Homo sapiens: one gene and its partners. The protein of the gene in region 1 interacts with the protein of each later gene in a pairwise test. Each region holds a gene or a part of one and is shown on either strand. Other genes may lie near its edges. The genes, in order: TMEM11, CYB5D2, BIK and RNASEH1.

Region 1 (8,004 bases):
GCTGAATTTTGGACAAGAATTCAGGTTACAGCTCAGAGTCTGATGTTCTTCATTACAAACACTGTTGGTTCCCTAGATTTAATGGAGTGGAGAGAAAAATCAACATGCAAGCACTACCATTTTGCTATTTCCACCCCTCCTATCTTAGTCGAAACCAGCACTGTCCATATCATAACTTTCTGCAGTGATGGAAATGTCCTCCACCTATGCTGTCCAATATGGTAGCCACAGGCCGGAAGTGGCTATTGAGCACTTGAAATGTGGCTAGTGAGACTGAGGAGCTGAATTCTTCATTTTACTTAATTTTAATGAATTTAAATGTAATTGCCACATGTAGCTGGTGACTACTGAACTGCTGTGTTAATTCAGCACTAATTCTAGAGCTGTGGTTCTAGACTCAACAAGGTAAAGCAAGAACCCACACGCTACACGTGCTAAACTGGACCATCCAACACACAGCGCCGGCAGTAATACTGCAGGCAGTCTGGCACTGGGTGGGACCTTTAAGTACAATGCATGCTTCAGAGTTGGTAGCCGCTGGCAAATCTGGCAAGTGTGCCCAAAGTGTCACTCTGTTCTAGCCCCTTCCCCAAACCAGATAATGTTTCCCTCAGCTTCAGCAAAAGCAGATGCTAACCAGGTGTGAGCAGCAACGGGAGAGAGCACTCGTATAACATGGAGCTGAGATTTGAGTCAGCACGAATGTGACATGGAACAAAGTCATTTTAGAGAGCCATAAACAGCCTACTTCAGTCATAAGAGCCAATAATACACTCAGATCTCATAATCTAGAGTGCTGGGCCATCAGCTAATCCGCCCTGCCCCACCTGAACAGTCATCACCAACTGAGCAGGAATGGAGGGATGCCCAGAAGTCAGCTCGCTAGCCCCACAGCGGGTTATGTTTCCATCCCCTGCTCAGCATGGGAAGAGCTTAGGGAAGCTGGGCTCGGGGAAATGACTCTTCCAACAGAACCTGGCTAGGGGTTTACAGCAAGAGCAAACAGACAGGTAGTCTCCACCCATACCACGTTATCTAGGAGAGTAGATGGTGACATCCAAACTACAAAACCAAATGCCACATTCCTGCTGACACACAACATCTGCGTGTGTGAGTAGAGCCTTCAGTTCCAGGCCAAAGGTGCAACCTGAACACCTACAGAGACCAAGCAGGCAAATGCATTGAGTCAAGCTGACAGGTGATTTGAGTCAAGCTGTCAGGTGATTTGAGTCAAGCTGTCAGGTGAGGAACCAAGAACTGGAACCAAGCACTTGTCCCGACCAAAAAGAGTCAGCCACTACCCAGCTTTTCAGGGAGCGTTTTATATGAAATCTGCTGGCAACTAATTTAAATTCTCTTAAAAACTGTTGAGGTTCAACAGTCAAGGACTGGATCCAGCCTATGCACTGCTAATTTGCAGATCCATTTTGAATAAACAGTTGTCTCAAGCCAAAACAAAAACAATTCTCAGCATCTATTTTCTTAGATCAATAAAAGCTTAACCTGTGCTGGCAAGGCTCCTGTTCCCTGCCTGAGGCATCCCTATTCGGCTCTTTTCAGATGCTTTTAGTCCAACAAGAGGGCGTATGTTTCTAATACTTTGTTTTCTAAACAGGTTATTTCGTATTACTGTTTGCATTGAATATCTTGAAAATGTTTGCTAGTTTTTAAGAGCATCTGAAAACCATTGAGGTAACTTATTTAAATGGTCCAATCTAATACCAGGCGGGAGTTAGAAAAACAAAAGTGTGTTTACCACTGCTTTTCCAAGGAAGAGGAAATGCAGAATGGGCAACGCTGGATAACTGGGCTAAAGAATAAAGTGCAAGCAAGCTAAAGGATTCTATCACAACTGCCAAACAGGAAGAATCTTCCCAGCTGGGAAAGCCATCTGCAAGCAATAGCAATGAACACGGGATGGAATCAGTCACAGAAAAGGAATAATGCAGAGTAGTTGAGAGGAAGATAACTTTTCTGTTAGACAATCCTCACCAAAAAGACGGGGAGGGGGAGAACCAGCAAAACAAAAACTTTTCCTTTTTTGCTGACCGCTGCTATAACAATCAAGCTTTAGCGGACAGTTAATCCAGGTGGCTCCACCAATACATCTTCTCCCAAATTTCTAGTGGCTGAACAGCTTCTAGTGGTTTCCACTAGCTGAAACTGCTTCCCAGATGCAAAAACTGCAACTTGAACATGAAACACGGAAACTACTCCAATCTCATCTTCTAGAAATCAGTTATTCAAATGGAGGTCCCTGTTGGAAGAAACACGCTCCTAGCTCCCTGCCCACACACCATTCATTAGGAAAGGTCACTTTAAAGGACTTCTACGGCAGGAGCGCTTGCACAGAACCATCCAAAAGTCTTCAGAATCTTCCCTCGAGGAAGTGGCCGGCTCTGGGCTCGGAAGAGACACATCTGGCGGGAGCTAAAGCTCCCTAGTAAACGTGCAGATCAAACTACCCCTGCCGCGGCCGGCCTGCTCTGTGAAGGCTTCCCCTTCTTTCTCTCTCCGGGGGCCCTGCCTTCCTCTACACGTCTGGGGCCGCGGCCGAGATGGCCACGCGCGTGCCCAGGCGGGAAGGGTGCTTCAGCAGCCGATCGGCCCGCGGGCAGCTAGGCGGGTCCCTGAGGCCTGCGCTGGGCGCCAGTTCCTTTCAGCACGGCCCGGCCTCGGGCCCCGCCCCGCATGGCCGCTGCCTACCTTACTCAGCCCGGCTAACGCCCCTTCCCCTAAGCTCTCCGCCGAGGCCTTCGACCTCGCTCCCACCCGGATCCCGGATCCTCCGGAACTGGAACCCAGTATGCCCGGCGAGGGTAGGGGGAGCGCGGGGAAACCAGGGAAGGAAGGCTGCTGCAGCCCTCGGAGGCCGCGCTGGGCTCTCCGGCCGCTGAGCCGCCTGCACTGGGGGCAACAAGCCCTTGGATCTCACCTCTCTCGGGCGCTGCCGCCACTGCTGCCCGGGCCAAGACGCCTCCTTCCCCAAGCGGCCATCTTGGAGACACTCTGCTTGCCAACGTCTCGCGCCAAGGCGGCATCGGGAGAGCAGGCGGGCCGACGGGAAGTGTAGTCCGGCCTGCGGTCCGGGGCCGCTCGGCAGGCGGAAGCCAGACCCGGCGGAACTACCGTGCCCACAAGGCAGCGCGCCGGAAGCCCCGCCCCCGGGGTCGCCGGGGCCCGTAGTCCTTCTGCGAGGGCGCGAGGACTCCAGGAGCCGTCCTGGTTCGAGCATTTCTGAAGAAACTGAGTTCCCGGCGTTCGCAGCCTGGGAGTCACAGGCGCCCACCCACCGGTAGGTCCTTGAGTTTCGAGAGCCAGTAGCTGAAGGAGAGAGGAGAGGCAAGTGCCTACAACTCCCAGAGCACTGCGCGGAGGCGCCCGGCCGCGCTGTCCTGGCCGCCAGGCTGCCTCTCCCGCTGGGGGCCGCCGCGCTGTCTGCGGGCTACTAGCGCCGGGCCCCTCCGCGTCGCCACGCCTGCCCTTCACAGCCTTGGCCCATAAGGTCACCGAGGGGCGGGAGGCGCCGCCCGGGCCCTCCTTGGAGGCGGGCGCTGCTCCCGCACCATCCTCCCCCAGTTCTCTTAGACTCCGGGGTACTTTGGAGGCCGAGACAGACACGCTGTCCCTGCTGCCACGGAGGTCCCTGCTTGCAGGTGCAGGCTGTTAGAGGAGAGGGTCTGAAAACAAGAAAGGGGAATAGCTGTATGATAACTGCTTGAAGGCGAGAGGGCCCAGCGACAGCTCTGTTTTAGACAGGGCCTCCAGGCCTCTTAGACTCAGTCCCTGCCACGCACCCACTCCTGCCCTGGCCGCTGCGACGGCATAATCTCGGGATCTTTGAAGGCAGATGCGGGGCTAAACCATCCCACCTGACGGGAACCCTGCCACAGGACCCGACATATCCCTGTCTGGACACTGCTGTAACGAGTCAAAGTCAGGAAGGACTAACTGGAGCCCAGAGATTCCCAGGTGCTGCTGCCTCAGACCTGTGGACTCTTTGGAGGATCTCTTACAGTTTGTGAACTTCTCAGTTCCTCTACTGCTCCCACAGACAACGTTGCTAAACATATTAATTGGTCCCATAAATACTTGAGCAAAACAAATGCGAAAATCTGTCCCGAATTCAGCCTAGAAGAAGCCCAGCCCTGCGCGTCACACTTCTGTGTAGTGGAACCCCCCTTCCCACCCCGCCGCAGGCCACAGCAGGAGGGCCAGCAGACGGAAAGGCGACCCTCTCCTTGTTGAGGATTCCTTTCGATTTCCTTCCAGCTGACATTCTACCACAGTTTTAGCTGCTTGCAATCCTCTCACCGTCCCTCATCACCTACAGTGTGTGATTCAAATTCCTTAGCACAATCAAGAAGCCCCTCCTTAGTTTGGAAGTTGCCTAGCTCTCCAAATTCAACTGCCTACCTTTCCCGTCTGGAACTTGCCAGGCTAGTAAATTCAGAGGGTTTGCAGATACGTAGATGTTCTATGCTTTACCTAAAATGCTTTTACCTCCCAGCCAACTTTTTTTTTTTTTTTTGAGACAGAGTCTTGCTCTGTCGCCCAGGCTTGAGTGCAGTGGTGCGATCTTGGCTCACTGCAACCTCCGCCTCCCAGGTTCAAGCAATTCTCCTACCTCAGCCTCCTGAGTACCTGGGATTACAGGTGGTGCCACCACACCCAGCTAATTTTTGTATTTTTAGTAGAGACGGGGTTTCACCATGTTGGTCAGGCTGGTGTCCAACTCCTGACCTCATGATCCATCCCCCTCAGCCTCCCAAAGTGCTGGGATTTACAGGCATGAGCCACGGTGCCCAGCTCTCCCAGCCAACTTTTGTCCTTCAAGACCTTGTACCTGTCTGGTCTCTAAAAAGTACCTGGCCTTCCTGTTGAGTCATACAGCCCTGCCTCCAAGTGTCAGCGTAGTTCATGCTGGAGACCTCTTAACAGTTCCATGGTATGACACTGCGGATATGGCTGTCTTTTCTTTGTATCAGTGTGGTGATTCAGAGGGTATACTAGGGATTCTAGAACGCACTTCTGGCTCAGGGGCTGCTTGTGTAACTTCTGTTTCTCAGCTGCCTGGTTTGTATCATGGGATGATAGTATCTCCCCTCAGAGGATTGCGGTATTTCATGAGGTGATACGTGTATGGAGGCCAAGTGCTGTTTTATATTTTAAGTGATCTACATCTTGATTTTCACAACAACTGTATAAAAGTGATACTGTTGGCCAGGTGCGTTAGCTCACGCCTGTAATCCCAGCACTTTGGGAGGCCAAGGCGGGTGGATCACCTGAGGTCAGGAGTTCAAGACCGGCCTGGCCAGCATGGTGACACCTCGTCTGTACTAAAAATACAAAAATTAGCCGGGCATCGTGGCACACGCCTGTAATCCCAGCTACTCGGGAGGCTGAGGCATGAGAATCATTTGAACCCGGGAGGTGGAGGTTACAGTGAGCTGAGATCGCACGACTGCACTCCAGAATGGATGACAGAGCAAGACTCTGTCTTAATAATAGTATCACTTTTTTTTTTAATCAACAATCTCATTTTGTAAATGAGGAAATCAACTTACAGACGACCTGAGTGACTTGCTCACACTGCCAGCCAGGAAAGTGCTAGGATTTGAGCCCAGACTGTCCAGTTACAGAGATTACACTCTGCCATTGTGCCTCTCCAGAAGCACTGGAGGTAGGTCTAGTGCATAGAGTAAATGTAAATGCTGAAACAACTGTGGCCCTAATGAACATCCCATTTCTCCAGCTTTTTACTCTCCCCTTAACTTCTGAATGACCGTCTGCTTCTAATCTGCCAACTTGGTCTAAGATCCTCACGGTGTTTCCTCCTGATTACTGTTAATGCACGGAGGTTGTCTGGAAGGTTCATAGGCAGCCTGATTGACTCAGTATGTATTAGCTGAGCACCTTTGGAGGGCACAGCCTGAGTGGTGGGAATTAGTTCCTGGGGGCTGTCCTGCGGTGGAGACTCCCGTGAGCCCTCTGTCCTGCTGTATGAAGGCAGCCAGTGGAAAGGCATGTCCTCGCTGGTGCTCAAAGTAATCTGCTACTTCTCTTACTACACTTTTCATTCATTCATTCTTAAATCGTTGAAGGCATACTCTGCAGGTACTCTTGGGCACAGAGATACGGTGTTTAGTAAGACAAACACTGTTCCTGGGTCTTAACGGGCTTTACATTCCAATGGGATAAACAACTTAAGTAAATATTTTCAGAGAGGAGTACCAAGAAGAAAAGGAACAGGATGATATAATGGAGTGACTTGGAGATCACAGGTGGTAAGAGGTCACTCTAAAAAGGTAACATTTGAAGGCTGGGCACAATGGCTCACACCTGTAACCCCAGCACTTTAGGAGGCTGAGGAAGGAGGACAGCTTGAGTCCAGGAGTTTGAGGCCAGCCTGGGCAACATGGGGAGACCTTGACTCTACAAAAAATTTAAACATTAACTAAGTATGGTGGCACGTGCCTGTAGTCCTAGCTACTGGAGAGGCTGAGGTGAGAGGATCTCTTGAGCCCAGGAGTTTGAGACTGCAGTGAGCTATGTTTGTATTACTACACTCCAGCCTGAGGGACAGAGTGAGACCCTGTCTCTTAAAAACGAAAACCCGACTGTATCAAAAGGTAACATTTGAGTGGGACTTGAAAGAGTGTGCATGCGAAGGACTGAAGACAGAATGTTCTGTGCAGAGCGAATTAATGCAATGGCTTTGCAGTGCAGATGGGCCTGGGGTGGTCCAATAAGGTTAGGACCAAGGTGGCTGGAGCATCATGAGACAAGCGTGGTACTTAGCTTGCCTTTGGTTAAGTCACTTTCTCTATTTGAATTTCAGTTTCTCACCTGTAAAATATGAGTAATTTTATCTGTATTAGCCAGTGTGTAATTAGAGGAAAAACCATTTAATACAGGGTATTGTTTACAAAGGTGTTGGAAGGGCATGAGAAACAAGGGGAGAACAAGGGCACCCAAAGCCTGACCCCCACAAGGCTAGAGGAGCAACAGGAAAATTCGTTTCCAGAGACTGATTCCTCAGCTGCTGAGCAGGAGCCTGGAGCCACACTTGCTGCCTGGTACTACTGACACACAACTGGAACCACCGCTGTGGCCTGGGGTGCCACCAGAAGCCAGAGATTAGAATTGCTTTCCCCATCTCATATCTTCCAAACTCCCACCAGTGCCTCCCACTGGCTGAGTCAGATGACAAGGGAGTCTGGGAAATGTAGTTGTTTGGCTTCCAGCCCTGACCATGGAGAGTATAGAAAGGCAGGTGTAGGGGAGAAAATAGATGCCATTCACACAGCGCCTATCTTGCAGGGCTGTTTTGAGGAGTAAAAACTCAGCCTATTTTTATTCCTCATAGCATGTAGTAGCATTCAGGGAAAGGCAAATCTTCCAAAACAATATCTTAGGTATAATAGTTCTACATAAAGGTTTGAATTTACCATTAAAAGCATCAAAATGAGCATTTTAAAAGTAGAATTTTAAGTCTGAATGGGCAGTATATTCACATGGTATAAAATTCAAATTACAAAACAATATACAGTGAAAAATAAGGGGGTTTTTTTGCTCATCTTCTTGTGACCTGGCTCTTTCCATCTCTGTCCACAACCCTCTGCAGGCAATAACTGGTACCTTTGTTATGGATCCTCTGCAGATATAAAGTAGACATATATTAACAAATGTTTTCTTTGGCCCAGAGGATGCATATTATGCACATTCCTCCATTTCTTGTTTGTTTTTGTTTTTTCCACTTAATTGTATCTTGGAGATCACTCTGTATCAGTATATATCTGATTTGTTTTAGCAGTACATGATAATCCATTGTTTGGATATGCCATAATTGTATCAGCCAGTCTCTGGACAGTCTTTTACTATTTCAAGGAGTGCTGCAGTAAACATGTTTGCGCCACTTCCTGGTACCCATTGCAAATAAAACTGGGATAATTTCCTGACGAGAACTTGCTGGGTCAGAGTGTAGGCACTTGTTGTTTTGAT
Region 2 (7,099 bases), about 17 Mb from region 1:
GGCACAAGAATATTGAACCCGGGAGGCAGAGGTTGCAGTAAGCCAAGATTGCGCCACCGCACTCCAGCCTGGGCTAAAGAACCAGTTTATCTCGAAAAATAAAAATAAATAAATAAAAAGGTTGGGGGCAGTGGCTCACACCTGTAATCCCAACACTTTCAGCGGCTGAATCACTTGAGCTCAGGAGTTCAAGACCGGCCTGGCCAACATGGCGAAAACCCATCTCTACAAAAAATACAAAAATTAGCTGCACGTGATGGTGCACACCTATGGTCCCCGCTACTTGGGAGGCTGAAGTGGAAGGATTGCTTGAGCTTGGGAGGCGGAGGTTGCAGTGAGCCAAGATCATGCCACTGCACGCCAGCCTGGGTGACAGAGGCAGACCCTGTCTCTAAACAACAAAAAACCCCACTGAATTGTATACGTTAAAAGGACTTTACATCACGTGAATTACATCTCAATGAGAAATAAAATACTGAATGAACGAATACGTGGACATAACTGCTTCCCAACTAGACTGTGTGGGCGGTGGGGAGCATGTTGCAGACATCTTGGATTCCACAGCCCCTGACACAAGGTAGGTAGTGGTAAATAAAGATGGTCAATGAATACCAGAACACGGGAGCTCAGTAAACAGCAGAGCACACTGAAAAATAAAAAGCACTCCAGACATCGAAGGTTTTATGCCCACACTTGTGCAAACATCCAACGACAGCTCCCACAGCACGCAGCAGGGCAGCGCAACGAAAACTGCCTTCAACTAGCAGCGACAAAACACCTTGATTCCAGTCCCAGCTCTGCTTCTAACTCACTGTGTACCCCTGAGTAAGTCCCTTCCCCTGCTGGACTATCTCAGGGGATTTGCGAGACCAACTGGACTTCATTCCTTTTCTGTCAACTTTTGTATTTCTTTAGTACTTCCTAGACAGAGGGAAGTGGCTTGTATTTTAAGTGCTAGAGGCAGCTTCCCAATTCCCCTAAGATAATGACAAGTGGAAAATGCTTATTTAATGTCAGCCTAGTAGCTGATCTTAGGCTTGCCCTGCACTTTTTTTTTCTTTTTAAATTTTGGAGGTCAGTCCCGCTGGCTGGCAAGGCAACATCTGTAAAAAAGCACTAGGCTGGCCGGGTGTGGTGGCTCACGCCTGTAATCCCAGCACTTTGGGAGGCCAAGGTGGGCGGATCATAAGGTCAGGAGATCGAGACCATCCTGGCTAACATGGTGAAACCCCGTCTCTACTAAAAATTCAACAAATTAGCCGGGCGTGGTGGTGGGCGCCTGTAGTCCCAGCTATTCGGGAGGCTGAGACAGGAGAATGGCGTGAACCCGGGAGGCAGAGCTTGCAGTGAGCCGAGATCAGGCCACTGCACTCCAGCCTGGGCGACACAGCGAGATTCCATCTTTAAAAAAAAAGCACTAGACTGGTGGTCCGAGTCCATATTCTGTCAGTATTCAGGTGTGAGGGTTTCAGGCAAATCGCATCCTTTAACCCCCTCAGCTGTAACACAGGGACACCAGCATAAACTTAATTTGACAAATGTTTCTTGAGGCCTAACATATGCACAACTTTGGTCTACGTATCAAGGACTGTAAAGGTGACTGGACCCCTTTCCTCTGCCCTAACCTTCTAAGGAAGGCAAACAGGTGCATCTTGTACTAGAAGCAGGAATGACTCAGACCAAATGTACTATATGACGGGCCATAAAGGAATAAAGTATTGATGCATGCTCATAAACCATGGATGAACCTTGAAAACACTATGCTTAGGGGTGGGGGGAAGAAAGATTATTTGGGACCAGGGCATAATGAAGAGATGGTTGGAATTATTAAGGAAACTGTGAGGGTAGGGGCGGGGCGGGATCTCGTTTATCTGTGCCCTAAGAGCCCCCACAAAAGTCCGGCACACAGCCCGTATCCTAGGGCTTCCGACGCTGGGTAATGGGTAACAAGAGACAGAAGACATGTTTCTCCAATGTAAGTCACGCAGGGCGGTGGTGGATGACAGAGCTGGCCCACAGTCCCGCCAGAGCCAGAGAGCCTAGAAGGATAGTGCATGCAGCTCGTCCCGCCCACCGCACGGGTTTGATGGATGTGGGGTGGGGATGGGGGGGGAAATAGATGAATAATGAACCAACGAACGACGCGCAGGTGGCTACTGGCTCGCGCCAGCGGAGAGAAAGGCGTGAGCAGCCTCGCTGATACCTGCGAAGCCGCTATAGTGGGACCCAGGCTCGTAGTGCCTCCGGCCGGAGGACACATCGTAGACACGGCCGAGCAACGCCAAGTACAGGCCCGGGTCCCCTGGGCCGCCGCGGTAGCGAGACAGCTCCTCCGGTATGAAAAGGCGAAAGCCAGCGCGGGGACCCCACCAGCCCATAAGCCGTGCTGCCATTACCGCTGCTGCGGCTACAGCCAGGCCCAACAAAAGCCCACGGCCTCCGCACCTCAACATCTATATAGGCCCACCCGCTCCGCACTTCCGAGGTTGCCGCCTCTATCTACAGCTAAGATGGCCGAGACGCCGAGCGTGACGTCATCGGCGCGCGCGCTCTCGCTCTCTCTCTCGCGCGCTAGTGCTCGCGCTCCCTCCCTTAGTCTCTCTCGTTTTATCTGTATTCCTGGCACTGGCGAAAAGCTCGCTGTCTGCGACTTTTTCCAGGTACTTTTTTTTTTTTTTTCTGAGACAGAGTTTTAGCTCTTGTTGTCCAGGCTGGAGTGCACTGGCGGAATCTCGGCTCACTGCAACCTCCGCCTCCCGGGTTCAAGCGATTCTCCTGCCTCAGCCTCCCAAGTAGCTGGGATTACAGGCACGCGCCCCCACGTCCGGCTAATATTTTGTATTTAGTAGAGACAGGGTTTCACCACGTTGGTCAGGCTGGTCTCGAACTCCTGACCTCAGGTGATCCACCCGTCTCGGCCTCCCAAAGTGCTGGGATTACAGGCGTGAGCCACCGCGCCTGGCCCTTCTCGTACTTCTTGGCTTGCAGGTTGTCAGCCCCAACAAAGATGGCGGCAGCGGAGGCTACGGAATGACGTAGATACTGAGACAGACTCGTCCTCTGGGAAATCAAGGTTGCACCCTTTGAGGCGGCGCTCCCCGCCTAGCTGTCGTGAGTTGGTAGAGGCCGCCTATCTACGTGACGGCGCCTTTGCGACAGCGGTCGTCGCTTGACGGCCAGGAAGCCGGAAGCCGCAGGGGCCGCCGTCGTCTCCTCCGCGTCCCCGCCCGCCAGCTGCTGTCGGAGGTTGACAGGTCGAGGCGGGGAGGCGGCGGCGGCGGCTGCAGAGCCAGGCGCCCAAGACGGAGACCCCATGGGGAACGCTCCGAGTCACAGCAGTGAAGACGAAGCGGCAGCTGCCGGTGGCGAGGGCTGGGGCCCACACCAGGACTGGGCCGCGGTCTCGGGCACGACCCCCGGCCCGGGCGTCGCGGCTCCAGCGCTACCACCCGCCGCGGCGCTGCTGGAGCCGGCCAGGCTGCGAGAGGCTGCTGCAGCGTTGCTGCCCACACCCCCCTGCGAGTCGCTGGTGTCGAGGCATCGCGGCGCGTTGTTTCGCTGGCTGGAAGAGCGGCTGGGCCGCGGCGAAGAGTCTGTCACTCTGGAGCAGTTCCGGGAGCTGCTGGAGGCTCGCGGCGCCGGCTGCTCTAGCGAGCAGTTCGAGGAGGTCAGGGCCGGCAGGCGACTGCGGGGATGGGGCAGGGCGGTCGCCCCCAGGGGACTGAAGGAAGAGGTGGGCATTTGCTTTGGAGAGGCCAGGCGGGGACCCATATGAGGTGTTTCCAGCTTTTCACCAGGCGTTTGCTTCGTTTCTCTTTAACCTATGTTAGAGGTCTGGAAAGTCTGCATCAGGCCGTCCTTGCTCTGAAGAGCTGGACAAGCCCATATGTCTCTCTCTGTATGTTGTAATGCAGACCTTTGTGCAGTTGATTGACGCTACTCTGGAGATCTTCTATCAGATTCTCGAACAGTTTGGAGAGAAAAGAGATGTAAGGATAGGAGGAGTGGCGCTGAGAACCATTTTTTGTATTGTCCTGTCCAGGTTTTTACACAGCACCTTCCCAATTCAGTGTGGGCGCCGAATAAGTGTGGAAAGACAGTAGTAACATGCTGGAAAGGCTCACATTCTAAAACCTATCCTCCTCATGCAAAAACTAGCTTTTCTAAAATACATACTGGTTTGTAGATCCTTAAAGAACCATATATTAGACTCATTTAAACCTTCATAGGATCCGAAACTGATAGGCAAATACCAGGTTTCCTGTGAATACTTGTAATTATGCAGTTCTTCATATAATCACCAAGATCATGTCTGCTAAGTCATTAAGAGAGCAAATTGATTTGGCAACAAAATATTTTCCTTGGAAGGCATTTTGGGAGTTTATTTACTGGGCGCTTCACTTCGAGTTAAGAAGACTGATCCAGGGTTACCCAGTGAATCATTAGTAAAACAGACTATCAACTAGATCTCTTGCTTTTTTTTTTTTTCTTTCTTTCAACTTTTATTTTAAATTCAGGCGTACATGTGCAGGATTTGGATTTGCAGATGTATTACATAGGTAAACGTGTGCCATGGTGGTTTACTCCACACAGCATCCCATCACCCAGGTATTAAGCCCAGCATCCATTAGGTATTCTTCCTGATGCTCTCTCTCCCTCCACCCGCACCCTATTTTTTGTTTTTAATGTCTCACTACCTCCTTCCTGGGATCCTATTTCTTTTAACACCACGGTATGACCAAAAAGGTACTTATTTTGTGAAAATGAGTTAGCCAGTCATGTAGAATCTTCAGTGGCCACGAAGGGTGTGTACATAAAGCAGTAAACCAGCGGGTACTTGCAGTGCCTTTAAAAGGTTCTGTTCACCTTAAAATCAGAGGCTTTTAAAATATTTTAAGAATGTCTTCCTGTACATGGCCAGAATTCAGATAATGTAGTTTGTGTGTTTCTTATGAAAAAAGTACCTTTAAGGCATCCCAACCCTTAAAAATAATAGTCATGGCTGGGCGCAGTGGCTCACGCCTGTAATCCCAGCACTTTGGGAGGCTGAGGCGGGAGGATCATCTGAGGTCAGGAATTCAAGACCAGCCTGGCCAACGTGGTGAAACCCCACCTCTACTAAAAATACAAAAATTAGCTGGGCATGGTGGCGGGTGCCTGTAATCCCAGCTACTTGGGAGGCTGAGGTGGGACAACCGCTTGAACCCAGGAGGCGGAGGTTGCAGTGAGCTGAGATCACGCCACTGCATTCCAGCCTGGGCCTCAGAGCGATACTCTGTCTCAAAAAAAAAAAAAAAAGTCATATTAGTTAGTGAAAGATCTCCTTTTTTTTTCCCCCCAGGAATACACATAGTACCTTCTTTCTAGTATCTACGCGTATTATGAGAATATGAAGTAGTAGTGGGAAGAACCATGCAGAACTGTTGAAGGAGATGGCACTTTGCAGATTTGAGCAAAGGCAAATGGAGAGAAACACCGTTTACATTCTGAGAGTTTCTGACAGAAATAGAACTTTATGTAGAGTTCATAGGAGTCCCTTAATAGAAGGTCAAGAAATACTTGAGGTGTGGTCCAGAAATCACTCAGGGGTTGTGGCATTATTGTTCACTGAGCAAATGTTTATTGGGCGTATATCGAGTGCCACTCACTTGGATGACAGTGGACAAAGCAGATACTTGCTCTTAAAGAGTATGTAGTTGTGGTGGAAGAGACAGGTATTAACCCATTAATTATAAGATATGGTGAGTGTTAACCGAGGGGGAAGGTATAAGGAATAAATAGCAAGTGTATTTAACCTCACTTGGGGCTCAAGCAAGACTTACCTGAGAAGGTAACATTTCAGCCCACAGGTGAATGGTGAAAGCAGATAGTGTTACAGGAGGTAGTAACAGCGTTTCAGGCAGAGGAAATTGTATCCACAAAAGTTCAAAGTCCAGAGAATCTGGAAGAAGTCTGGTGTGGTGTATTAGGGATACACAAAACTTTTTCAAGGGACAGAAAACCTAATGCATCAGTGGTTTAAACATAAAAAGAAGCTGCTTCCTTATGAAAATGTCCAGGTAGGCAGTCCAAGATTGATGTGGCAGTGTTGTCATCATCAGGGACCTGGCTTCGTCCATCTTGTGCTGTCATCCTCCACGGACATCTTCCACTTAGTAATTCTGTTGACTCCTGCTGTCATTTTCCACATTCCAACAAGCAAGAAAGGGAAAAGGGAAGGAGAAGGAAGAAGCCATGCCCACTCTCTTACGGGCATAGCTTACATCCCACAGGCCAAAATTCAGTCACATGGCCGCAGTTACCTGCAGGACAGGCTGGGAAAGATTCTTTTTCCGTGGCCATATATTCAGCTAAAACTCAGGGCTTAATTATTGAGGAAGGGGAGAGAAAACATTGAGTTATATTTGGCAGTCTTTGATTCACATAGCTAGGTCATACAGTTCTGTGAGTGAGGCTTAGCCAAGGTTTAAAAACCTGATTGTGATAATCTCACAGTGGCCACCGTCTCTCATGATAATCTTGTGATGGCTGCTCTGTCTGTAAGAACTAGTAAGTTAGGACTAGCCAAAGAAGATAAGATTTAGCCATGCATTTGATTCTGTGCTTTAAGAATGTCTATCCTTAGACTTGAATAAGTATATACTTTTGTGCATACTTACACAGTTAATTCTGCGTTGTTAATCTACGTCTAAGCTTTTGAGAATATACTGCTGTATTTTACTGCAAGATGAAGGGCTTGTGAAGTAATGTCTTTATAGTAGCAACTAAAATGACAAGTTGTTTCCGTCATTCGTTTTTATAAGAGCTAACATGGTAAAACAGATAGCCACGGGTGCGCATGGTTTATTATAATGCTGAGAGTTTCCAAGTGTTACATGTTTCTTCTTTGGCTTCCCAACTTACGCTGCCATTGGTGTCCACGCAGCTGTCTTGCTTTCACATTCCTGTGACCTCAGTTATTTGAGGAGGTGTTATAAAGAAGTTCTTGGAGTTGGACCATGGACCAAAGTCTGAAACATTATCATTTTATAGTACAACACACCTTTTCTCATGGTAGGTGTGGTCCAGGGAGAAGGTGCGCATGGTTTATTATAATGCT
Region 3 (7,772 bases), on another chromosome or scaffold:
AACAGGATGCTTTCCAGGGAGAGGGGAAAATACCACCAGCAGTGGTGTCAGCTTCAAGACTCACTGGCCAATCAAGCCCTTCCTCAATTACATCCTTCCGTTGAGACGGGATCAGAAATGGGGGAAAAAAAAAGTACACGGTTATGAGTAGTCTCTGGTTTATCTGCAGCTCTGTGACACAAGACGTAATTTTTTTTTTTTTGAGATGGAGTCTCACGTTAGCCCAGGCTGAGTGCAGTGGCACCATCTCTGCTCACTGCAATCTCCGCCTCCTGGGTTCAAGCAATTCTCCCGCCTTAGCCTCCCAAAGTGCTGGGATTACAGGCAAGTCAAATGTGTAAGAATCTTGAGCCGGGTGAGGTGGCTCACGCCTGTATTCCCAGCCATTGCACTCCAGCCTGGGCAACAAGAGCGAAACTCCGTCTCAAAAAAACAAACAAACTTACAATAACTAACATGTATGCAGCCTCTCTATCCAGCCATAGAGTACCCAAGCTGTAACAGACACTGGGGATCTACCATTTGATGCTTTTTTAAATTTTCTTTTGACAGAGAGTCTCCCTATGTGGCCCAGGCTGGAGTGCCATGGTGTGATCTCCGCTCAGTGCAACCTCTGCCTCCCAGATTCAAGCAGTTCTCCTGCCTCAGCCTCCCAAGTAGCTGGGATTACAGACACACGCCACCACGACCGGCTAATTTTTGCATTTTTAAAAGAGACTGGTTTTGCCATGTTGGCCAGGCTCGTCTCACAACTCCTGACCTCAGGTGATCCATCTCCCTCGGCCTCCCAAAGTGCTAGGATTACAAATGTGAGCCACCATGCCCAGCCTAATGCTCCTTTTTTTGAGACAGGGTCTCACTCTGTCTCCCAGGCTAGAGTGCAGTGGCATGATCAGGGTTCACTGCAGCCTCAACCCCTCCAAGCTCAGGTAGGCCTCTGAACTCAGCCTCCTGCGTAGCTAGGACCAGAGGCACATGCCACCATGCCCGGTTAATTTTTTGTATTTTTGGTAGAGACAGGGTTTTACCATGTTACCCAGTCTGGTCTAGCCCAGTCTAGTCTCCTGAGCTCAAGCAATCCTCCTGCCTCAGCCTCCCAAAGTGCTAGGATTACAGGCACGAGTCAAATGTGTGAGAATCTTAGTCTTAACATCCTTAAGACAATTAAAAAAAAAAAAAGGGCCAGGCATAGGGGCTCACGTCTGTAATCCCAGCACCTTGGGAGGCTGAGGCAGGAGTATTTAAACACTCAAGCCGGGCGGGGTGGGTCACACCTGTAATCCCAGCACTTTGGGAGGCTGAGGCGGGTGGATCGCCTGAGGTCAGGAGTTCGAGACTAGCTTGGCCAACATGGTGAAACCCCATCTCTACTAAAAATACAAAAAATTAGCTGGGCCTCGTGGTAGGCGCCTGTAATCCCAGCTACTAGGAGGCTGAGGCAGGAGAACCGTTTGAACCCAGGAGGCCGAGGTTGCAGTTAGCCGAGACGGCGCCATTGCACTCCAGCCTGGGCAACAAGAGCGAAGCTCTGTTTCAAAAAAAAACAAAAAGAAACAAAAAACACCCAAACTGTGCCATTCCTGAGAACTTATTCCAAAGGCGTGCCCAAATTAAGTAGAAATCGGGGTGAGTCTTAACTCCAGGGAGGCTACTAACTTGAGAGGGGCTTTCACCTGGCCAGAAACCTCAGGGATACATTTTGCAGAGTGAACAGAACAAACTGAGGTTCAGAGAGATGGAGTGGCCCTTCCGAGGCCACAGGGCTGGAGAGTGGAAAGAGGTTTTGGCTTGGGTTCCATAAAGGGCCCTTGGCTTCTAGCTAGACAACCCTGGCATTTCTGTGCCTCCTGGGACTGAAATCTCTGTTTCTCCACCTGGAAGATGAGGCCTCCTGCTCCCAGGGGCAGACAGATGTTAAGAACTTCCCGGCGCTAGTGCCCACCAGACTGCGCTCCTCCTAATGCGGGGACATGAGGCTGACACCAATGCTCCCTGGGAAGCTCGGGCTCCCAGACCACAGTAAACACTGCGTTAAAACAGCAACAAAAATGTTACAATAGTAAGAGCTACAACAGTAACATCAACAACCACGTCCTACCCCACGAGTGGCTCATTCTAGCAAAATTGACAATGAAGGGCTTGAAAGCGATCGCATTTAGGAGGCCAGAGCCCAGACGACGACCAGCTCCGAACCCCACAAGCCTTGTCGTGACCGCGCCCCGCAGGCGGGGGGCCCCCTCGCGGGTCACCCGCAGGGGCGCACCTCCAATTTACCAAACAAGGTCGCATGCCCCAGCCGGGCTCTAGTCCCCGCCCAGTCTGGGGCGCACCTGTGCAGGGCGCGTGGGCAAGCGAGGGCGGGCGGCTGCGCGCCGCTCCGTGTGCACGTTCCTGTTCCGGACTTTCTGGGCGTCCCGTTACGAAGCCTTTCCTCGGCCCTTCCTCAGGTGCGCAGCGCCTCCGGGAGCCGGTCCCGGCGGCACCGGGCACGACGCCATCTTCCCTCTTTTAAGGGCACCGGGGCTGTGCGGCCGCGGCCGTGGGCTGGCGTTGCCGCGCTACGGTCTGGCCGGGTCCGCACGACCCCAGAGTTCGGAGCCGGGTGCCCGGAAGCCGCACTGGAGGACTGTGCGGCGGCGATGGGGCGTCCAGCCGTCGCGGCGAGACGCAGAGGGACCACCCCATTGCACAGGCGCGGAGACTGAGGCCCGCAGGGGCCGCGCCTGGCACGATCGCCCGTCGGGGACCTGGAGCCCCGGACAGAGAGGGTACGTTTCGGAGCCGGAGTCCCGAGACGTCGCCCCGCCAGCGACTTGCTGGAGCGGTAAAACCTGGGCACGGCTCCCCACACTTCCAGCCGCTCGGCACCCGGGCCGCGGCCTGGGCGCTAACCGCCGGGCTCGAGCTGGGCGGAGCAGCGGGCGGCAGCAGGGTCGGGGGCACTCACCTGGCGGCGGCGATGCTGGCAGCGTCTGTAAGCCACCCGGGAGGCTTCGTGTCTGCGGCCCGGCTGCCGGCGCGGGACCTAATAGGCCCGGGCGCCCCGCCCCTCCCGCCCCGCCCGGGTCCCGCCCCTCCCCGGGAGCGGCCTCTCGCACCCCGAGCGCGGAATCCCGGACTGGGGTCTGAATGGCATTGGCAACAGAACCGCTACAAGTGCAGCCCGTTGGCTTGTTTACAGCCTCTCTGCCCCCTGCTGTTCTGCAAGCTTGTTTTGTCCCGTGCGTCGCTGTTTCCCCTGCGCCCAGCACGGGCGTGCACTCAGGGGTTTCCATCAATATCGGGGGGATCGATCCATTGACAGAATCTGGCCCTTTACACGGATGGCCTCCGTTCGAGCTCAAAGTACTCCTCGGTGCTTTTTTTCACGATCATTTTACCCACGTGGAAACCGAGGCTCCAAGAGGACGAAATGACTTAAATGACAGCGTGAAGCCAGCGTTCAAAGACGTGTGCTCCTTAGGCTGGCAGCTTTGGGATTTAGGTGTTTTAAAGCCTATTTCACAAATATGAAAACCGAGGTTCACATTTGGTTAGCAGCAGCATCCAGTGATCCATACCCGAAGCCAGGGGGCTGCCCCTCCACTGCCGCCCGTCCGCAGCCTTCCAGCTGCATGACACACCCACTGCCTTCCCCCTCCCGTCGGGGCTCCGGGTCCGCGAGAGGCGGGCGGGACTGGGAGGGATTGGGGGCAGGGGGCTCACGTGCAGACCTGGTGAGACGGACCCCACAGCGCCTGGCGGGGCGAACAGAGAAATCAGAAAGCTTCCAGGCGGGGTGGGCGGGTGGGCAGCCTGCTACGCGGGGATGGGTAGGACCTAACTCCAGCCCTGGGGTATATTGGGGGTGGGAGAAGGCAGAGCGCTCCTGGAATAACAAAGTAACAATTGTCCTGGGCACGGCAAAGCTTGTTTACTTCTGTCTTGATCCCCTCAGAGATTAGGGGAGGGGCAGGGACAGGGGTTCCCCTCCCCCAGCTCTGTCGTTTGCTACCTGTTGGGTACCCTCACTCTGTTCTTCCCACCTCTAGGGTAATTACTTCCCCTTCAATGTTCTCATCTGTGAAATGGACAACAGCACCTACCAAGAGCTGGGCTGTTGGGAGGAACAGAGGAGGTAAAGTGTGATAAAGTCTTCAGAGCCCCTCCCGCCTTCCGGGCTCTGGACCTTCTTTGCTTTTGTGGGGTTTTTTTGTTTGTTTTTGTTTTTGTTTTTTTGAGACAGAGTCTAGCCCTGTTGCCCAGGCTGGAGTGCAGTGGCACAATCTTGGCTCACTGCAACGTCTGTCTCCCAGGTTGAAGCAATCCTCCCGCCTCAGCCCCCCTAGTAGCTGGATTACAGGCGTGTGCCACCATGCCCGGCTAGTTTTTGTATTTTTAGTAGAGACGGGGTTTTGCCATATTGGCCAGGCTGGTCTTGAACTCCTGACACCAGGTGATCCACCGGCCTCGGGCTCCCAAAGTGCTGGGATTACAGGCGTGAGCCACCACTCCCGGCCCTGTAGTCTTTTCTTCTAGGGCCTCCAAACTACATCAACCCCTACAAAGCAGCTCGCCCTGACTGTGGCTAACAGCCACAGAGTGCCTTACAGTCAGGAGCAGGGAACCCTTCATAATGGGGGCTTCCCTCTGAATGCATTTTGCAGATGAAAAAATTGAGACTCAGGGAGGTAAAGCAATGACACGGGGTCTCATGGGTCCGAAAGACCTGATATATGTGAGATGCTTGCAGAGGGGTCTTAAGGCTGGAGGCACAGTGCCAGGTATGTAGGAGATGTTCAGTAAACATTAGCAGAAAAGATGGAGAAAGAAGGACCGTTTGGGGACACTGGATGATTCAAGGGCAGAGTGGGTGCAAATACAGTACTTATTTACTTTGCAAAATCCCAAGACAATATGCTGATCAAAAGGAGGAAGAGATGGCTGGGCATGGTGGCTCACGCCTATAACCCCAGCACTTTGGGAGGCCAAGGCAGGTGGATCACCTGAGGTCAGGTGTTTGAGACCAGCCTGGCCAACATGACGAAACTCCATCTCTACTAAAAATTAAAAAACTAGGCCAGGCGCGGTGGCTTGCGCCTGTAATCTCAGCACTTTGGGAGGACAAGGCAGGCGGCTCATCTGAGGTCAGGAGTTTGAGACCAGCCTGACCAACATGGAGAAACCCCATCTCTACTAAAAATACAAAATTAGCTGGGCGGGGTGGCACATGCCTGTAATCCCAGCTACTCGAGAAGGTTGAGGCAGGAGAATTAGGGAGGCAGAGGTTGCAGTGAGCTGAGACCACGCCATTATACTCCAGCCTGGGCAACAAGAGTGAAACTCTGTCTCAAAAAAAAAAAAAAAAAAGTAGCGGGTGTGATGGCACTCACCTGTAGTCCCAGCTACTTGGGAGGCTGAGGCAGAGAATTGCTTGAACCTGGGAGGCCTTGATTGCAGTGAGCCAAGATCGTGCCACTGCACTCCAGCCTGGGCAACACAGCAAGATTCTTCTGTCTAAAAAAAAAAAAAAGCTCACGAAGGAAACTGTCTTGGAGATGCATGATCGCATGATCTATTGAATGAAATGGCATGCTGTATAAATCACTGTGTCCATTAGAATCCTATATTCTTTAAAAATCCATGTATGGCTGGGCAAGGTGGCAGGTGCCTGTAATCCCAGCACTTTGGGAGGCCGAGGCAGGCAGATCACAAGGTCAGGAGATCGAGACCATCCTGACTAACACAGTGAAACCCCATCTCTACTAAAAATACAAAAAAATTTAGCTGGGTGTGGTGGTGGACGCCTGTAGTCCCAGCTGCTCAGGGGGCTGAGGCAGGAGAATGGCGTGAACCCGGGAGGCGGAGCTTGCAGTGAGCCGAGATTGTGCCACTGCACTCCAGCCTGGGCAACACAGCGAGACTCTGTCTCAAGAAAAAAAAAAAAAAATCCATGTGTGAAAGTCTGGAAGGAAATATAGCACAGCAAAATGGGAATAGTAGTCATCTCTGGGCATCATGAAGTTCATTACCAGGCACACCTAATCTATGGCGCTAGAGGTGACATTGGCGGCTCCCTCTCCAGGGTGAAGATGGGTATTGGCTGGGAAGGGGCATTATGGAACTTTCTGGGGTGACACAGATGGTGGCTGCAGGGGTGCATATGTATGCAAACAGCTGAATGCTTAGGAACTGTGCATGTTTTGGTATGTCAATTAAACTCAATACTAATACAGGTGTATTGAGTTTTTGTTTGTTTGTTTTTGTTTTGTTTTGTTTTTGAGATGGAGTCTCACTCTGTCACCCAGGCTGCAGTGCAGTGATGCCATCTCAGCTCACTGCAACCTCCGCCTCCTGTGTTCAAGAGATTCTCCTGTCTCAGCCTCCAGGGTAGCTGGGACTACAGGCATGCACCACCACGCCCGGCTAATGTTTTTTTTTTTTTTTTTTTTTTCTGTATTTTTAGTGGAGACGGGATTTCACCCTGTTGGCCAGACTGGTCTTGAACTCCTGACCTCAGGGAATCTGCCCACCTCGGCCTCCCAAAGTGCTGGGATTACAGGTGTGAGCCACCACGCCTGGTCCTATTAGTTTGTTTTTTTGTTTTTGTTTTTGTTTTTGTTTGGAGACAGCGTCTCACTTTGTCATCCAAGTTGGAGTGCAGTGCAGTGGCGTGATCTTGGCTCACTGCAACCCCTGCCTCCTGGGCTCAAGTGATTCTTGTGCCTCAGCTTCCTGAGTAGCTGGGATTATAGGCGTGCATCACCACACCCAGCTAATTTTTGTATTTTTAGTAGAGACAGGGTTTCACCATGTTGGCCAGGCTGGCCTGGAACTCCTGGGCTCAAGGGATCCGCCCACCTTGGCCTCCCAAAGTGCTGGGATTACAGGTATGAGCCACCGCTCCCAGCCGTGGTTTAGTTTTCTGCCTTGTGTTTTCATGTATTTTCCGGATTGTCTAGATAAACGTGCAAAAACATTATCTTTTTTTAGAAGAGGAAGAAAACTATGTTTGGTCTTAACTGAAGCCAGAGCCAAGCCAGAGACAATGCCAAATGCCTACCTTCAAGACAGTGGCAATGCAGGGACAGACAGAAAGTGACTGTGGCGTCAAGCAAGGGAAAACTAAGCGCCAGGCTCCCACAGAGGACACAAATATATCAGGGAAAGCTTCATGGAGGAGGAGATATTTGAGGGGAATTCAAAGAAGGGACTGGATTCCAACCAGAATAGAAAGGTGAATGTGGCCTAATTATCCTGTCGGTACTGGGGAGCTATGGAAGGACACTGAGCTGGAAAGGAACAAGAGGTTAAGGAATTGGAATCTAGCAGCCATGCGGAGGGGTATTGAAGGGAAAATAATGCCCATTGTCTCCGAGAGTGCCCAGGGCTCCTAAATAGAGGTATTGCAGCCTCCGTCCAACTGATTGGCGTACCCAGGCTGCCCCCCGACCCACAGCTGGCCAGCAGTACATCCGTCAGCTGGCATTCTGCACACCCAGCCTGGACTCAGCTCCGAAGCTGTGAGGCCCTCCATGGACAGAGCTGTTGTACATCCTCTGAAAACTTTTTTTTTTTTTTTTAAACTGAGTCTCGCATTGCCGCCCCGGCTAGAGTGCAATGGCACAATCTTGGCTCATTGCAACCTCCACCTCCCAGGTTCTAGCGATTCTCCTGCCTCAGCCTCCCAAGTAGCTGGGATTACAAGCGCCTGCCACCAAGCCTGGCTAATTTTTTGTAGAGATGGGGTTTCACCACGTTGGCCAGACTGATCTCGAACTCCTGTCCTCGTG
Region 4 (7,020 bases), on another chromosome or scaffold:
GTAAGCATCCCCTACATGCTCCTATTCAGGGCATTTCCCAAAGAAGCAGTCAACACGCCATCTTAAGTGACTTATACACACACAGACTAGAAGTAAGAGCCACTTCCACTTCTGACTGCATCTCCAGTGCCTGGCAAAGAAATAAGCATGTGGAAAACATCAGAGCAGCAGAAGGGAGACTCCAAAATCCTCACTCTTTGCTCGGTACCTGACAAACCAATGTCATCCCCCCGTTCCCATTTGGGTCCTGCCCTGTTACAACACCTCCTACCAATTTCCCTTCACAGTTACTGGAAAAACAGAAGAAATCAAATGTGAAAGCTTACCATTTATCGTAAACATACTGTCTGTATACAGAACCAGTTTATTGATGTTTTGAGTCTTTGCTTGTTCAATGGCTTTGCAGGCTGCCTTGAAAAGACAAGTCGATAGTCATGCTACAGAAAATGTTCAACTCTGACATTACTAAAGTTCAAAAGTACTTCGAAATTGAAACATCCCCTCTGTACTGATTATATTCTCTGTATGAAACACTACTATACATACAATTCTCCTGTGTAGACATCTATTTGAAATAAGTTTTTAGAATTTTTCTACAAAATTCCTATTTTTCAAAATTGTTATTAAACCCGTCTCTCTTCAAATATCTTATATGTATAGGTAGAAAAAAAAAGAATTAGTTTATTTGATAATTTCATACTCAATGCTCAAAAAAGAGAGGCTTAAACGTATCTGATAACTTACATGAATTTCCGCTCTTTGGTTTGTCTGCCGCCCAGGAAGTCTAATGCCTACATTTCTGTTTCAAAACAGTACAAAAGAAAATAAAAGTATAAAGTGAATTCTCAAAGTGATTCTTCTTAATGGATAACGATAAACTAGTGTGTATTCTTATTTGAAATATAAAAGCATCATATAAAAATCAAACTAACAGACTCCCAGCAGAGAGCAGCACACAGGTTTCCACACTTGGGCACCTTCTGACTCTCATGGGTTCCACTAGGGCAAAGGAAGTAAAAGCTGGTTCTCTGCGGACCCTGGGTTAGGCCCTATGGCTGCAGCAGAAAGAATCCCAGGAGAAAACTCGGGAAGAAGAATGGAGAGAGTGAGACTTCAGATTGAAACTACTAAAAACCTCCAGGAAGTAAAAGAGGAAAATGAAATCAAGGAACCAGAAAAACCCTTAGACAAGTTATTTAAAATTTGGGGTCACCAGGAGATCCAGAGTTTCCTAAAAGAATGAGCAATTTTTGGGCCAGGGGTGGTGGCTCACACCTGTGATCTCGGCACTTTGGGAGGACAAGGTGGGAGGATCGCATGAGCCCAGAAATTTGAGCCCAGCCTGGGCAACATAGTGAGACTTCATCTCTACTGAAAAAAGGACTCCTCTTGGGAGGCCGAGGTGGGCGGATCACGAGGTCAGAAGATCGAGACCATCCTGGCTAACACGGTGAAACCCCGTCTCTACTAAAAATACAAAAAATTAGCTGGGCCTGGTGGCAGGTGCCTGTAGTCCCAGCTACTCGGGAGGGTGAGGAAGGAGAATGGCGTGAACCTGGGAAGTGGAGCTTGCAGTGAGCCGAGATCGCGCCACTGCACTCTAGCCTGGGCGATAGAGTGAGACTCCGTCTCAGGAAAAAAAAAAAAAAAGACTCCTCCCCAGGGCAAGAAAGAAACACCAAAGCCAGGTGCAGTGGCTCACACCCATAATCCCAACAGTTTGGGAGGCCAAGGTGGGAGGATCGCTTGAGCCCAGAAGGTGAAGTCTGCAGTGAGCTGTGTTTGTGCCACTGTACTCCATCCTGGGCAACAGTGTGAGACCGTGTCTTAAAAAAAAAAAAAAAAAAAAAAAAAGCAAAGGAAGTAAAGCTGAGGTACCTCACGTTCTGAAAAGCAATGCCGCTTAGCCCCAACACGAACCAAAGCTGCTCCTCTGCCACCCCTGCCAGAGCTACTTATCTGCAGGTTTTCCCAATAATCAAACAATGAGCAGATCCCGCCTCATCTTTTCACAAGTTGTGGAACATGATTCAGTAAAACTCAGCTTCGTTTAACTTACAAAGGATGGCCTGGCCCCCAGTAAACGCCGATTCCTGCTCGCGGCCTTCTACGCCCATTACTGGAGCAGCAGCCATCAGTGTAGACGACGACGAAGTCTCCTGTGGGAAAAGGAAGTACATGCTGCTGGGCTGACCTTACTAAAAACTGAAATTCACCTCAAAAATCCACTAGGTCGACTTAGCATTTTAAACCGAGAGGGTATTTTACAACGCTGCAGACGTTTTCTCTCTAGGAAAACATGCTCCATTCCTTACAAGGGGGCACCTAACATTTATGCTTGGAATCCACTTACATTTTGATCTTGCAGGCCAGGCAAGTTCGGGGTGAAGGCAATCACCTTGTAAAACTAGAGCCTGCTGCAGTAAAAACTACTGTTCACATCCCACACTGTGGGTTCAGAGGACAATGGCGCTGTCTCCACGGCAGGGTCACCTTCACTCCCAGGGAGCCATCCTCCAGAGACGAGCAGCGCCTCAGCATGACGGTGACCCTGCCTGCCAGAGGGCCCAGTCTCCTGACCAGTGCTGGTCTAATTTCTTCCCTGGCATATTTGCTGCTAGTTAAGTGTGGTTCCCGTCTTTGCTTCTTTCCCTCTAGATAGAGGGTATGATTGACACACAAAGGCTGTAAAGAACAAGGTAAAAAAGGACTGACGGGGGCATTCTCAGGCCACTGGTGACCAGGACACTTCAGTAGTGTGGTGGGATCAGAGGTCAGGTTGCACAGTGTTAAAAGAGCTGGGCGAGAGGGCAAATAGAGGTGGTACGCGCAGGAAGTGGAAGTACTTGTCCGAAGGACGGCAGACTGAGCTCAGCAGTGGCGAAGGGGCAAAGATGGGGATGTGCTCCTCACAGGAGCGGGGCTGAGAGCCAAGGGGAGTGTGGGTGTTGGGCAGGGCTCCTCCGTTCAGCTGGAACTTAACTGTATCAGCATGACTACAAGCTTCCCACCCAGCCACTGAACTGTCTCAGGAGCCAGCACCTGCTATCCGCCATGTTCCAGGCCACCAAGCCTCCAGCAATGGTCAGTGTCTGGAAACGGCTCATCTCCCTGCAACTCCACAAATCTTTGCTTCAATTCCTACTAGTAAATCACCAAATAAAGAATACTTGTTTGATCTTTTTTTACGTAACTGCAAAACATATCTATAAATAATACAGCTTGGCAAAACATTTTCTACTGGTTTCCCTTGAATTAAATTAGAACCTATAAATATACTGATTTATATTTTTTAATGCTTATTTCTACTTTCTGCTCATATGTGTAAAAGACACAAAGGAGAATTCTATTCTGTGAGTCACTAAATACATAACTGATTCCTGGAGTGAAAGGTAGCAGAAAAGTTCACTACTACCTTGCTTCTCAGGATAAAATAGAATCTCTTGTTTTCCAAAGATTGAATATGAAAGGTTAAAATGCTGGTGCTAATCAATTATAACAAGCAGCTGCGTGTGAGGTGTTATTTGAAAAAGCTGGAGTCTTCGCATTTCATCTTAACGTTAAGTACTGCATGCACAGGGAATACTAGTATTTCAAAAGATTACAGTTGTTCATTTACATGTAAGGGTTTTCCTAAGAACATCCAAAAGTTTAATTCTGCACTACTTGATTATAAATAATGGCCTTAGTGATTTCTAAATAATCTTTACACATAAGAATGAAGATGATAAACACCAGCTCAAACTCCCCCCATCAAGTGGGAAACACCTTTTACACATAACATTTTCCTGACTGTGGTATTAAAATCTGAAAACCCAAGGAAGATGTACCCATGTAGGAAAACGTGTCTCTGCTAACTGGAGGCGCCGGCTCCACGCTCGGCTTCATGTGCTTTGCATACGGCTCTGCGCTTTCATGTCCATCTCCATCCAGTGGCTCACGGAGTCGCTTGCTGGCTTTCGCCTCCGATTCTTGTCCATGTTGATTTTCATGCCCTGAAAGACAAGAGTCCACTCGTGAGCTGGAAACAATGAACATAACACGAAATGCTAGAGAATGAAGACATTCAGTAAATTATTTAGTATCATTAAATCAGACTTAAAAACACCCTCTCTATGTGGCCCTACAACGAGGGAAACGAGGGAATGACCCCCTCCACGCCATCTCCACCCCCTCCACGCCATCTCCACCCCCTCCACACCACCTCCACCCCCTCCACACCACCTCCACCCCCTCCCCTCCACACCACCACCACCCCCTCCCCTCCACACCACCACCACCCCCTCCCCTCCACACCACCTCCACCCCCTCCACAGCATCTCAATCCCCTCCACAGCATCTCAAGGGGCTCTTTCTCCAGGAAAAACATGGCCCAAAATTGTGTATATAACATCAGTGGTGTTGCTGGGCGCAGTGGTGTGTGCCTATAGTTCCAGCTACTCGGGAGGCTGACATACGAGTATCGCTTGAGCCCGGGTTTGAATCCAACCCGGCCAACATAGTGAGACCCCTTTGCTTAAAAATAGATAAATCTAAAAAAAGATGAGTTGTGTCCATGGTTCAGCCTCTCCCTGCCTCAAATACAACTACATGGACACGAAGTTAAGAACCCCTAGGAGGGCTCAGAGGGTGCAGGTTCATCTAGCTTGAATAAACAGATAATGGGACATATTAAGAAAGGAAAACAGGGCTGGGAAGCCGAGGCGGGCAGATCATTTGAGCTCAGGAGTTCAAGACCAGCCTGGTCAACATGGTGAAACCCTGTCTCTACTAAAAATACAAAAATTAGCCAGGCGTGATGGCGGGCACCTGTAATCCCAGCTACTCAGGAGGCTGAGGCAGGAGAATGGTGTGAACCCAGGAGGTGGAGCTTACAGTGAGCGGAGATCGCGCCACTGCACTCCAGCCTGGGCGAGAGAGTGAGACTCTGTCTCAAAAAAAAAAAGGAAACAGAAACCAGAAACTAAAAGGAAGCAACTGGGTCCCTTCAGGGTCAGTACTCTTGCAGCTTTTCTTTTGCAACAAAGTTTTTCTTCTGCAACGAAGTTTTTCTTCAGGGGGACCTCAAGGTTAATCCCAAATAGTTTTTTTTTTTTGAGACAGAGTCTTGCTCTGTGCCCAAGCTGGAGTACAGTGGCGCGATCGTGGCTCACTGCAACTTCCACCTCCCTGGTTCAAGCAGTTCTCTGCCACAGCCTCCCAAGTAGCTGGGATTACAGGCACCCACCACCACACCCAGCTAATTTTTTTGTATTTTTAGTAGAGATGGGGGTTTCACCATTTTGGCCAGGCTGGTCTTGAACTCCTGACCTTGTGATCCACTGCCCTGACCTCCCACAGTGCTGGGATTACAGGCGTGAGCCGCTGCGCCCGGCCCCAAAGAGATTCTTAATACCACCTCAGGGTTATCTGGGAAGGGCCCATATCTCACTCACTGGGTAATACTATGGCAGCTGAAGTAGAACAGCTAAATTAGACCAGGACTCAAAAAACCAGTTTCAATTTGTGCTATACCTTTTATCAGCTGCGAACTCCGTCAACTGAATTAAACCCTCTGGGCTTCTGTAAAACGAGGCCCTGGGCTAGATGATCTCAAACGACTTTTCCTTACATGGAGTGAAAATAAGGACACAGGAGCAACCAACTACCTGCAAACTAACAACCCTAACCCAACACTACAGGATTCACCTCCAGCTCTCAACTCCTAAACCAGGGATGGAGAAATGGGGCACGAACATCACAGAACGCCTACTAGAAAGGAACAAGAAAATGTCCAGCCTAGTGGAGCTTCTCAACCCACACCTCTCGGAACCCTAAGGGCGCCGGGCAACACTTGACTGTGATCAGCACGACGTCAGCAACAGCTGGCGTTTCCACTGCCACATTTTGTTTTCACACACTCATCTCCAAAACGTTCCTCTAGGTACTCTACTGAAGTAAATGCAGATACTGTGGTCCAGGTTAAAGTGTCATTTTGTAGAACCTTAACACGGATATAAACACTGGTTTTACTTACTATAACAGAGATGGACACTTTACAGAACAGATAAGACTTGGAGGAAAAAAACACACTTGTCAGTTAAGTTTTACTTCACAAAATTGTGGTTTTTAAGTAAATTAACCTTAAATCAGCTTATATAAACCATAAGAACCAGTAAATAGCTCAATAATTCTAAAATAAGGATAAATGTAATGTTAAAAAACAAAAAACTGTAAAAGGGGCTAAGACTTTTTGATACAGATCTGAATCATTAAAGGCACTAAATCTCAATTTATAGACGTAAGTCACTGACTAGGAGGTCTCTAAAGTTTAAAGAAGTAGATTCAAAAGAACTAGCTTGCTTTAAGAGTCAGAGTACTTAATAAAAACAGAAACATACTTATATTGGAAGACTTGAGATACAAATAAATTACTGATTGGTTAAAAACAAAAAATTTGTGAAAAGGAAAACTGAAAAGGAAAATTAAGAAAAGGAAGTATCAGGAACCCAGCAAAGAAGGAAAAAGCCATATTTTCAAACCTGCTTTCTGTCTCAAACTGATTTTTCCATCTGGGTAGAAAAATGAACAGCTGTAACAGCGAGGAGGCGGCTCAGCATTACTGCCTCCATTCTCCCTTAACATCCCCATAGTGGTATCGTATAGGCCGAGTGAACTATGGGAAGAATTTATAGTTTAAAGCAAGGATGACAGTGGTCCGTTCCCAAAACTAACCCCCAAGGAGATAAAGAGGGAGTACACACAAATAACAATGTTATGTTGAAGACTTATAGGAGGAGCATCATGGCCTGACCAAGGACAGAGAAGTTTCACAATCCCCTTGGACCCTCGCTGCCATCCAGATGTCTGTGCTCATCGGTCTCCTCCTGATCTCACCTCCGCCTTTCTTTCCCCTTCCCTTAACATAAAAGAAGTCTCAAGTTCTATTAACTTAAGATGGTTCTTCAGGACACTAGTCCACCATCTTCTTGACTTGCTGGCTCTCGGAAAAAAGTCGCCTTCCTTGCCCCAACACCTTGT

Evidence for each region.
Region 2: the proteins of TMEM11 (region 1) and CYB5D2 interact in binary tests that used the Homo sapiens proteins (3 or more experiments, as listed by UniProt).
Region 3: the proteins of TMEM11 (region 1) and BIK interact in binary tests that used the Homo sapiens proteins (3 or more experiments, as listed by UniProt).
Region 4: the proteins of TMEM11 (region 1) and RNASEH1 interact in binary tests that used the Homo sapiens proteins (3 or more experiments, as listed by UniProt).

The regions. Positions count from the first base shown.
Region 1 is NC_000017.11:21,211,156-21,219,159, forward strand, and holds the start of TMEM11 (transmembrane protein 11, mitochondrial), read right to left. Parts: upstream 3,007-8,004; 5' UTR 2,998-3,006; coding exon 2,936-2,997; intron 73-2,935; exon of another isoform or gene 1-72. UniProt on the Homo sapiens protein: Plays a role in mitochondrial morphogenesis.
Region 2 is NC_000017.11:4,139,110-4,146,208, reverse strand, and holds the start of CYB5D2 (neuferricin isoform 1 precursor), read right to left. Parts: upstream 3,013-7,099; 5' UTR 2,454-3,012; coding exon 2,204-2,453; intron 2,099-2,203; exon of another isoform or gene 350-2,098; coding exon of another isoform or gene 142-349; intron 1-141. Other genes in the region: ZZEF1 (zinc finger ZZ-type and EF-hand domain-containing protein 1), read left to right, coding at 3,314-3,667. UniProt on the Homo sapiens protein: Heme-binding protein which promotes neuronal but not astrocyte differentiation.
Region 3 is NC_000022.11:43,105,979-43,113,750, reverse strand, and holds the start of BIK (bcl-2-interacting killer), read right to left. Parts: upstream 3,002-7,772; 5' UTR 2,948-3,001; intron 1-2,947.
Region 4 is NC_000002.12:3,548,314-3,555,333, forward strand, and holds part of RNASEH1 (ribonuclease H1 isoform 1 precursor), read right to left. Parts: intron 3,996-7,020; coding exon 3,831-3,995; intron 2,160-3,830; coding exon 2,060-2,159; intron 800-2,059; coding exon 745-799; intron 412-744; coding exon 327-411; intron 1-326. UniProt on the Homo sapiens protein: Endonuclease that specifically degrades the RNA of RNA-DNA hybrids.